Linked DNA regions of Homo sapiens. The protein of the gene in region 3 purifies or fractionates together with the protein of the main gene of each other region. This does not show direct contact. Each region holds a gene or a part of one and is shown on either strand. Other genes may lie near its edges. The genes, in order: EOGT, EEA1 and SAMD9.

The links.
Region 1: the proteins of SAMD9 (region 3) and EOGT purify together in Homo sapiens (affinity purification with mass spectrometry; one large-scale study listed by BioGRID and IntAct). This does not show direct contact.
Region 2: the proteins of SAMD9 (region 3) and EEA1 purify together in Homo sapiens (co-immunoprecipitation; one study listed by IntAct). This does not show direct contact.

The regions. Positions count from the first base shown.
Region 1 is NC_000003.12:69,003,681-69,007,336, forward strand, and holds part of EOGT (EGF domain-specific O-linked N-acetylglucosamine transferase isoform a precursor), read right to left. Parts: intron 1,555-3,656; coding exon 1,460-1,554; intron 803-1,459; coding exon 698-802; intron 1-697.
Region 2 is NC_000012.12:92,852,696-92,856,351, forward strand, and holds part of EEA1 (early endosome antigen 1), read right to left. Parts: intron 1,260-3,656; coding exon 1,220-1,259; intron 331-1,219; coding exon 217-330; intron 1-216. UniProt on the Homo sapiens protein: Binds phospholipid vesicles containing phosphatidylinositol 3-phosphate and participates in endosomal trafficking.
Region 3 is NC_000007.14:93,115,154-93,119,329, forward strand, and holds the start of SAMD9 (sterile alpha motif domain-containing protein 9), read right to left. Parts: upstream 2,827-4,176; 5' UTR 2,710-2,826; intron 1-2,709.

The DNA.
Region 1 (3,656 bases), on a different chromosome or scaffold from region 3:
AGCTGGCCAATGATGTTAACAGTCAGAGTAGCATCTACCTTTGGAGAGGGGGATGGGGGTAGAGCCTGGGAGGGAGACTGAGGTGCTGACAATGTTCTATTTTTGGACCTGGGTAAAAGTTACATGGGTGGGTTCACTTTTTCACAATCCAAACTGTACCTTTTTCTGTATGCTTTTACATACTTTAATATATGTGTATTGTTTTTTAAATGGGTTCCCCAAAACACATTTTTATTTTTTAGATTTGAGGTCTCATCATATTGCCCAGGCTGGCCTTGAACTCCTGGGCTCAAGTAATACTTCTACCTTGGCCTTCCAAAGTGCTGAGATTATAGGCATGAGCCACCATTCCTGGCCTTGGCATGGACGTTTGACCTCAAAAATTAACATTATGTAAGTAACCTATGTGACTTTGTAAGTGAATAAAACTTGGCAATTGTGAGTTAATAAAAATGGATTTTTAAGCTGATTTTTTTCTTTCATTAGCAAACAGTAAGTACTGTATCTACTATTATAAACACATACTTAATTCAGATGCAACTGAGGGATTCACTCGGTTTCCGTCACTTCCCAGAAGCTCATGCCAAATTATGTACAAATGAAGTAACATTTTCCATTTGAGAGTCTCCATTAATATCTGCAAGTGCCGTAAATAAAGGCAAATATTTCCGAAACAGATACGTTAAAAATATCTTACCATGACTGCAGAGGGCTTTTGCGCTGACCTTCAGACGTCAATGTACGGATGTCAAGTTTACAGTGCCCTCCAATTTCACCACTCTGGAAAAAGTCCTCCTTAAATCTGGTATATAACAAAACATTAAGTTAAGTTCAGAAAACGTCTTCATGACCCAAGCACGTGGGTTGTAACTAAAGTGGATTACCAATTTCCAAACTGAATTTTTTAAAAGAATTTAACTATTTACAATAGAAAATTTCAAGTGTATATGAAAGTAACAGAATCCTATCAGGACCCTAATGTATCCACAACCCAACTTTGCAATGCGATTAACTCATGGCCTGTCTGAGTCATCCATCCCCCCACCCATTCCCCAACCCCTCTGCCATATCATCAAAAACAAATTCAAGATATACCCCTTCAGCAAGGCTTGGTGGCTCACACCTATAATCCCAGCACTTTGGGAGGCTGAGGTGAGAGGATCACCTGAACTCAGGAGTTTGAGACCCGCCTGGGCAACGTTAGAAGACCCCATCTCTTCAAAAATTAAAAAATTAGCCAAGCCTGGCGGTGCGCTTCTGTATCCCAGCTACTTGAGAGGCTCAAGTGGGAGGATCACTTGGGTTTGGGAGGTCACAGCTGCACTGAGCCATGATTACACCGCTGCACTCCAGCCTGGGCAACAGAGCAAGACCCTGTCTCAAAAAAAAAAAAAAAAATCCCTGGATCTGAAAATATTTCAGAATTTATACTAGATGTTAACATTAACCACTAAAGTACCTGTCATGATTTCTCTTGATGTTTCTTAAATCAAGATAGAGATTGGTTGCTCTGCAGTACTGAAGATAACGGGAACACACCAGACTTGAGTCACTCTGAAGGTTGAGCAAAAGAAAAGAATGACTCTGAGTATTAACACAGCAAAGACTCATCCGGACTTGCTAGACACACTGACAGCACGGATACCCTCACATTCAAACCACACAACATGACAAGGAAAGCTCTCCAAAGACTGCATCTGCTGAAGGATATTTTCTCCTTCCCAGCAGACCCTGGCCAAGCATACTTTTGCCAGTTTCCCACTTTTAAGTTACCATGGAAAACTCCCCAACGATCTGTCACCTCAAATTTTAAAGCCAAGAGCTGTATATGTGGCTCAGTTCAGTCCCCTTTAAAAGAAAAAAAAAGTACCCAGATCCAGTACTACTACCCCCACAGCTATATGAAAAAGCAGCTTCCAAAAGCCAAAAGAAACAAGGAAAAATGCACATGTAAGAGACATTAAAAGCAGGGAGGGAAGTTTGCCAGTTTTAATAAGAGGTGCTTTCTGCAAACCGTAAAGCTTGTGGGAGCCTCTGTCTCAACAGCAACATGAGGGCAATATTTTCTAAATAATTGAAGAAAGGAGTCGAAGAGTCAGCTACCAGAGCCTGATTCTATTTCAACCAATCTGGGTTATGCTCAGAACTTCAAAAACTTTTATCTGCTCTGGGTTTTATTTATAGATTTAAATGCCATTTTAATTGTTTTTCCCAAAACTCCCAATGAACACAAAGTCTCAATCTTGACCTGCATGGTGTTTTGGAGTCTGTAGTTGGTAAAATATTGCAATGGACTGAATGTCCGTGTCTCTGCCAAATTCATATGTTGAAATTCTAACCCCCAATGTGATGATATTGTTTAGAAGCTACCCAGTCTATGGTATTTTGTTATAACAGCCCAAACAACTAAGACAAGGATCATACTCTGCTAGCACAAAGCAAATCAAGGTAAATCTTAATCAAAAGAACATTCTACAAGCCACCTTGAAAGAGGAGTGCAAGATAGGGGTTGTCATTATTATCTTGCCCTTTCCATGTGAACAGCTAGACTTGAGCCAAATGTGCAAGACAGAACAGAACTCTGTTAAAGACACCCTGCGGCCGTGCAGTTTAATGGCATGCCTCACATCCTGAGGCCTCATTCACCTTGCTAGAATGCTCAAAGCTCTATTACGTGACACCCTCCAATAGCTCTATAAAGTATATACTCAGTTTTTGAATGTGAGTAAATTAAAAAATTTTTTTAGTTCTCCAGTGTGGTTGGAGATCGGAGACCCCTGAGATGTCAGAGACTCAGGGTTCAGGATCATTGAACAGTGTACCTTAATCGTAAGTGCTTACAACTTCATCAACCTTTAAAAAATAATGCTGAGCCCTTGGCCGGGAACCAGGCCCTGCTGCACTGAGCATTTTTATCTGCAGAACCTCATTTCTTCCTTACCATATGCTACATAATGGGCATGGCTTTAAGGCAGAGGAAATTGAAACAAGGAAAGCCTAAGTACCTTGTCTAAGACTCAGGATCTGAATTGTAGTTGAGAGCCTGCTCTTGTATTTACTACCCCAAACCACCTCTTGACAACGTGTTTATCTGATCCACTGAGGTACGATATGGTATGGTTGAAAGTAAACTGGAAAAAAACCTGCATTTTAATCCTAGATGTGTAATTAATTTTAAAAGGTAGCTGTGCAGTCTTGGAGAAGTTGCTTAACTCCTCTGAGGACCCTGTTTTCCATACTGATAAAGTGGCATCAGTAGTATCTGCTATAACGCTTATAAGCATCAAACGAGATAACACACAGAAAAGCTTTCTGCAAACTGTAAAGCTCTGGGCAAATATAGAGCAGTATGGTGGTGTTATATCATCTGTCCCAAACTATCTGAGAATGAATTTGTAAAGACGCAGTTTATCAATTTCTCTTCATTAGCACATGTTTGGGGGAATGATTCTAAACCTAAAAATATTTCGACTGTCTTAAAATATGACTATCTGATAAATGTGGGATAAGGAGGACAGGGTTTCCAAAGGAAAGAAAACAACCTATTTGGGGAAGTTACATAAAATTCTATGCCAATAACTAAGTGAGAGTGAGGAATTCCTTTCATAGTGCCGTCTATCTTGTTTTTACATTACAAGCTAAATGATAAATATTAA
Region 2 (3,656 bases), on a different chromosome or scaffold from region 3:
CTACAAAGAAACACCAGTCCTTTGAAGGCAGGCAGCTAGAGGACAAACAAAATAATTTACATAGCAACTCTGAAATCATTAAATTCCATTAATCACCATTGGAAGTCTATCACAAATGCTTTAACACACTAAAATACTATATTTATTGCTAGGGTATATAATGGCAAAAAGGTAATGAGATTGATTTATTGGCTAAAAAATTCTAACTCAATTTACCTGCAATTTCAGTAGCAAGTTGGGCTGCTTTCTGTTCAAATAAGTCTTTCATTTGCTTAATATTAAAATTTTCTGTTTGGGCTTCTTCTAATTGCTGTTCCAAAGACTGTAGTTCTACAAAAAAGTGTCGCAGTTATTCAAATACCATGTTAATTACATATGCTAAATTGTTATTACTTATATTTATTACAGTTGTAAAGATGATCAACTTAAGTTTATTATCCAATTACAAGTAGTATTTTGACACTTCAAGAAATTAAGTATATCTGCTTCACTTAAGGTACAAATCATAATTTACAAACATACACTACAAATGAAATGAATATTTAGAATCACTGCTAAATAATCTATAAATATTTTATTACAAGTTATTTTGATTTCACATTTCACAGTTATTTTCCCATATCCATCAAATGACCAAAAAGGAATACACCCCTTATCTTTTTTTTAAGAGATGGGGTCTCGCTATGTTACGGAGGCTGATCTTAAATTCCTGGGTTCAAGCCATCCTCCCCTATCAGTATCCCAAAGTGTTGGGATTATAGGCATGAGCCACCAAGCCTGGCTCAAAAAGGAAAACATTCTGCTCCTCTGATAAAATTAGTTATAAAGCGGGATGTTGGAAATGGTTAAGATCTCAAGGCCTTTTAATTCATTAAAGTATGCAGTCAACTCCTAATACTTCATCATAAAGAAAATAAACTATCTTACTCTTAATATAGACTTAAAATTTCATTAAACAACCATATTAATGTAATATTCCAGAAGTTTCTTACTTCAAAATATAATGAACTAAAAAAACTAAACTTTTAGTTAACTGATTAAATTATGAAGTTCACATGTAACTCTCTACACCTAGAATATGACCATTATCTTCACTGTTTTAGAGTCATAAAGCATAACCATGAAACAAAATTCATTTGGCAGGCATCAAAGAAAAAGAAAGGAAAACAAATAAGAAGAAAAAGAAAACTGACAAAATATCTGCTTTAAGTAAAGTTACCTGCTGATGAATCAGTCACCAACCCATCAGGTTTGGCCTCCTCAATTAAAACAAAAGACATAAACAAATGAATTAAAAGGAAAAGATAATACTGTTAAAATGGTCAATGTTAAAAAATCTCTGAAAGTCACTTTCTTTCAGGTAAGTAGTAAGATTTTGGTGAAAATTTAAATTTGGTGGTTTCCATTCTTCCAGATCTGTAAGAGACCAGCAGGCAGACTAGCCTAATGATCTAACTTCAGTTTATTAGTTCTAACATAGATTTTTTTGTATGTTAATATATATGAAGTTATTATGGTCATCTTAAATTCCATGAATTCAGTAATAAATAAATAGCACAATTATTGTAATTATAAATATAGATTCTAAAACAAATACTTAAGTCAACTGGCAACATTCAATCGTATTAGTATGTAGCTTTGAAATAACTTCTAACACTAACATAGTTTGCTACATGGATGCTACATATTTTGCTGTCATAAGAACTTGGAGTGTTATCCCCCTCCGCTCAAGCATGTAATACCTGTTAGACCCCATATGTGAGAACTTGGAATGAACTTCTCCTCTCTTCAGTAGTATTACATCAGACCTTATCATACCGCAGATCTGAGCTACTGACCTCAACTACTGGACTTCAAAATACATATTAACCAAAGAGTTTGAAAGATACTTTGAAAGCTTAGGCCATGGCAGGCTGCACTTTTTCAGCTGCTTTCTTTGAGACTGGCAGCTCATGCTGCAATAGGGCCATATCCTATTGGCCTTAGATCTTTGAGTCTCGGCAGCCAACACCTACATCTCCTCTAGCAGCAGGAGATCCCCATTGTCTGGGATCTCCACTGTTTTGGATGCCATCTCTCCAGAGAGACTGCTCATAAAAAAAGGTACACCTCAACCCTTTTAGACTTTACTTTTCACAAAAGCCTGCTTCCATCCTGAGAAAGTGACTAGACTTTAATAATTTTGGAACTCACCCACTATATGGTTAATATACCTCATCTATTGATATTCCCTGTAAGATTTGTTCATGTTATTTCTCTCCCTTTTAAGCACTGTGAACCGAAGAAAATCTCTCTTTGGCAATAAACCATGCAATTCATGAAATCATACTTCAAATCATGCTTCTTATTACAATCAAACAGAACACCTATAATAGTTGAACATTTGCATTAGTTAAAACATGCTATCAAGCTATCACTACTAAAACTTGCATTAGTTAAAACATCCTATCACGGCCGGGCGCGGTGGCTCACGCCTGTAATCCCAGCACTTTGGGAGGCCGAGACGGACGGATCACGAGGTCAGGAGATCGAGACCATCCTGGCTAATATGGTGAAACCCCGTCTCTACTAAAAATACAAAAAATTAGCCGGCCTGATGGCGGACGTGCCTGTAGTCCCAGCTACTAGGAAGGCTGAGGCAGGAGAATGCTGTGAACATGGGAGGCGGAGCTTGCAGTGAGCCGAGATCGCGCGCCACTGCACTCCAGCCTGGGTGACAGAGCGAGACTCTGTCTCAAAAAAAAAAAAAAAAAAAATGCTATCAAACTATCACTACTAAAAAAATTGGCTTTATAAGCATAAATTTTTAATTCAGGACAAGTCAACTTTAAAAGAAGCAGAAATAACAGATTCCATAAGGCTTAATTTGTCACATGTATTAGGAACAAAATAATATACTACCTTGGCATTATTTTTATATTTTAAAGAATTATACCCATCTGAAAGAGTTTAATAAGGCATTTCCTAGTATATCTGACTTTTTGTTTCTCTATACATTGAACTAAGACATACTGATTGCTAAGAACCTTAAGTATTTAAAATATATTTTCCCCAAAAGGTAAATTTCCTGCCAAGGTAACTTACATCTTGCACTGTGGAAAAGTTATTTAAGTGTATTAAATGTGAAATAGTCATCTCAAATGCAGTAAACAATTTCCACTCTGCTTTCAGATACAGAAAAGAATACAGCCCATACTCAATTAATTATTAATGGCATCTATATAAAACATGAGTAAATGAGTTATAAGTAATTTGGATTACTAAAAACTCCTTTAATGTTAACAGAATCACCAATTAGAAAAGCTGAGTAGTAATAAGACTGATTATCTTGTCATTTATTTATTTGTTTTTGTCTTTTTCAGTCCAACTGCCAATTCTTGGTGCAAAGGCTTTAAAAAGCAAACAAGCCTCACTGAAAGTCACAATATGCCAAGATAACATGCAAAGGGATTATTAATTACTTTACAAAAATATTAGAACTATTGCTGAAGGGTAACTACTTTTATTCTTACAAATGATGACTATGGTAAAATTATTTGGTAAAACTTCGTTAATCTTTGATTCTTCCTATAATTTCAGAATAAAATCAATATAATTTCAGCATAAAAATCATAATTAAGGCATTTACTTAGAAAATACACTAAACTATATAGAAT
Region 3 (4,176 bases):
GGAAATGCAAAGTAAAATTACAACAAGATAATACTACATGCCTACCAGAATGGCTAAAATTAAAGACTGTTAATGCCAAATGTTGGTGATGATGTGGAGTCAGTGGAGCTCTCATATGCTGTCTGTGGGAATGTACATTGTTTTAGCCACTTCAAGAAACTATCAGTTTTTGTGAAGTTAAATATATACCTACTCTTTGGATCTGCAATTCTCATGAAAATTATTAAAGTACTGATACAGGCAACAACATGAATGAATATCACATCATACTGTGTGAAAGAAGCCAGTTACAACAGAAAACATATTGTAGAATTCTACTTATATAGTTTAAGAATAGGCAAAAGTAATCTGTCATAGAAGTCAGACTGATGTTGGGGGGTGGATATTTTCTGGGAAGGGGTGATGGAAATATTTTATATCTTGATATGGCTAGCGGTTGCACAGATAAGTACATATTAAAATTTCATAAAGGCTTACCCTTAAGTTTGTTCATTGTATACAAGTTATACTGTATTTAAAAAGCCAATAATGCCTCCAAAATACATTAGAAAATAAAACGGATGAATAAAATAAAAGAGATACTTGCATAAAAAAGATGATGGTGTGTTATGAATCAAGGATAATTGTGAATTCAATGGTATGTGAGGTCCTAAAGTTTTACTAGGTGTTTATTATTGCAGTCTCAGATTATGAACTTTTGACTTCTGCATCCCACTCAGTGTTGATTCAATACTGGTTTTAGAGTTGTCTAAAAACTGACTACACCCTCGTCTAGTAACCATTCTATCTGAGTCACTTTCTTGTATCCATTTACTGAGTCACGTCTACTCCACCCTATGAAAGTATGCTCACTTTTGTTGCACCCACACTATTTAACACATAAAGCAGGGGTCCCCGATTATTGTGCTGCTAGCGTGCGCTGGCTCCTGAGGCCTCATACCTATGGCTCTCATCCCCCATCTCGCCGCTTCCCACCAGTACCCTTTTCCTAGGGTCTCCCTGACTTCCTTCATCAACTTGGACCTTTCACAGTTTTACAGACACAGTCCTTAGTCTCTGGTGATATGTCATAAACTAGATTATGAGACTGGTGAATTAGATGGATTATTTGATTCATGCAAGAACTACATACCATTATATGTGAAAACGTAAAGTCAGGTTCTCATATAAGAGTGTGGGGGATGGAGAACTGGGCCTGAACATTTGGTTGGGAAAGTAAGCAAATAATAAAGAAGTGACTTTTGACTGTTTTCTCTACTAGAGACACTATGAATATTTCAAATGTCATTGAACAGGTTACACTTTCACACTTCTTCCCCTAAAGCTTTTGTCAGATTATTGATAGCTGTGCCTTTCAATACATTATTTTAAAAAAATTGTTGATGATGTCACTCTTGGAGAAAATATATGCCAGCATTCATAGGTATTTATGCCACTGTTCATAGATATTTTACATATTAATGATTTCTTTATACCCTCTCGTTCCAAAATGTTTTTTAGGTAATTTAGAAAGTAATATAGGATCACACATATATTAAAACCCTTAGGTAAAGAAATCATGGGGAAGGCTAAATAAGGGTAGGGGGAGAAAAGGTGAAATGAGGGAGTAAAATTAGTACCTAAAATTACTGGTTTTGATTCCGTATACTTTAAAAACTGACCTGAAAATTTGGTTCTGAGCATCTTAGTAGGAAACACTATTTGTTACTGATTGAACCCACATACATTTTTTAACTCTGGTTGGTGTTAAACTGTAGGGTTTGTTAACTTTTCTAGAAGGGAGTTGAAGGTCAGACCTTTATTCAGAAATGTGATCCTCCAACCGTCTTGCATTATCTTACTGTTTGCTTTGGGGAGAAATTAGACATAAACCTAGTATTTTTGCCAGGAACATAAAGCTGCCTTAATTCCAAAGACTTCCCATAGTAGTCTATCTGTCTGTCTGTCTTCCTATGTATGTCATCCGACAACAATATCTGAGAAGCTCTCAGAGAGTTTTGTTTTCTGGAAGCTACCTATTTCTTAGAGTAGATGGTGGAAGTTGTATTTGATTAAAGTAAAGTACTTTTAAGTTTTCATTGCCTGTTCTTTATCTATCTTTCCGTTTGTTGTTGTTGTTGTTGTTGTTGTTGTTGTTGTTTTTGAGACAGTGTCTCACTCTGTTGCCTATGCTGGAGTGCAGTGGTACAATTACAGCTCACTGTAACCTTAAATTCCTGGGCTCAAGCAATCCTTCTGCCTCAGCCTCCAAAGTAGCTAGACTGCAGCTGCGTGCCACCACATCCAGCTATTTTTTTTTTTGGTAGGAATCTTGCTAGGTAGGGTCTTGCTATGTTGCCCAAGCTAATTTTGAATTCCTGGCCTCAAACAATTCTCCTGTCCTTGCCTTCCAAAGTGCTCAAATTACAGGCTACCACACCTGGCCTGTTTGTTCTTTCTGAAGATGCTGTATGCCTTGGGAGAGTTCATCAATAAAAGTGTCTGTAGTTTTCAACTGCATCTTTAATGAAATGTTATGACTAATTTTTCAACTAATATAAAGCAGACTGCTGTCAGAGCAACAAATAGTCTAGAATTTCTAGGCTTAGAATACTATTTTTTGTTTTGAGGTATATTTGAAGCTTCTAATTGAAAAGTATATTTCTTTCTATTCAATAAAATGCTGCTATAGATAGTAAGAACAATATTAATAATAGATATTGTACTTACCCAGTAGTCTTGCAAATTTCTTTTACATATATGTGGGGAAAACCATCTCTTTTAGTGCTGAAAATATCTGATGTGTTTGTTTTCTTCCTCCTACGATGCTAGAGAAAAGTATTTTCCTCATTCTGGTTTTAACGGAAGTCTATGTATTCTCTGCTTCTGTCTCACAGCAAGCTCTAATTGGCTCAGAAACAGCAGGGCGTGTTTAACAACTGGGAGGTTGGGGAAGGAAGAATATAGGTTTGGTTTCAGTTTCATTTCTCAGATCTGAAATTACAGCACCGCCTTTTCTATCTGAAATGCTTTTTAATAAGCTATGGCTATATACCACCTTCTGGTCTGCTTGGTTAAAATCTGAAGGCTTAACAATTTTTCCTCACTTGAGAGTTTTGAGGGCTGCAGAAAGCCCCATTGTCTTGTTATAGACAAACTGTGGGATATTCTGGCTTAATTGATCCCTTGGGAATATGAGTTTACATTGCAGTCCCAGCCTTGTAGAGCACCAGGTTGGAGATACTCTAGGTCAATATTTCACTGGCCTTTAAGGGTGGAGTTACTGTCCATTCCTGTTTTCCTAAAGTGTAAAGAATGTCTTTCAGGGATAGGACTTCTTTGAGCACCCCAATAAGTGCTAAATTCATTTATTGCAGAGCAGACCAGGGCTGCAGCAGACCTGATGGTCACATTGTAGAGATTTATCTTTTCTAAGGTCAGTGTCAGGGCCAGAGAGAAAACTGCCTGAGTGAGAGCAACAAAAATAGCTGATATTTTAAAAACTAACAGCAAGTACTGATATTTATTGTGTGTGCTCAATTAGCTTTTGGTTTCCACATCCCACAACTGATTCACACTGGTTTTAGATGAAAACATTTAAAAACATTTATTTTAAAATATTTATTGGGCGCTTACCATGTACCAGGCATTGTTCTAAATGTTTCATATTAACTTAATTACTCTTCACAACAATCTCCTGAGGTAGAGATTATTTTTATCTCAATTTTAAAGGTGAAGAAACTGAGGCATAGAGATTAAATAATATGGCTAAAGTTTGCATAACTAATACATGGCAGAGATTCGAATCCAGGTTTCAGGCCAGTGCTCTTAAATCCTGAGGTTTAGGAAGAAAGAAAGTGGCTATGAAGGACAGCCTAGATATGACCATTACACTTATCACCCTCAGGAGCCCTCCTCGTAAGGGGACCCTGGGCCTGAACTCCAAAACCTGGGTTTCACTTTGCATGGGGACCAGTGTGATGGTTAATTTTATGGGTCAACTTGACCGGGCCACAGAGTGCCTAGATATTTGGTCAAACATTATTCTGGTGGTTCTGTGAGGGTGAGGAGGCAGGACTAGCTTGCAGCTCCTGCTGGGACAGACAGGACAGCATGTGGAGACTCACATCATGAACTTTTGCTTCAAGAATTACTGCAGCAACATACCAGGAAAGCCAAGAGAATTCACAGACCCTT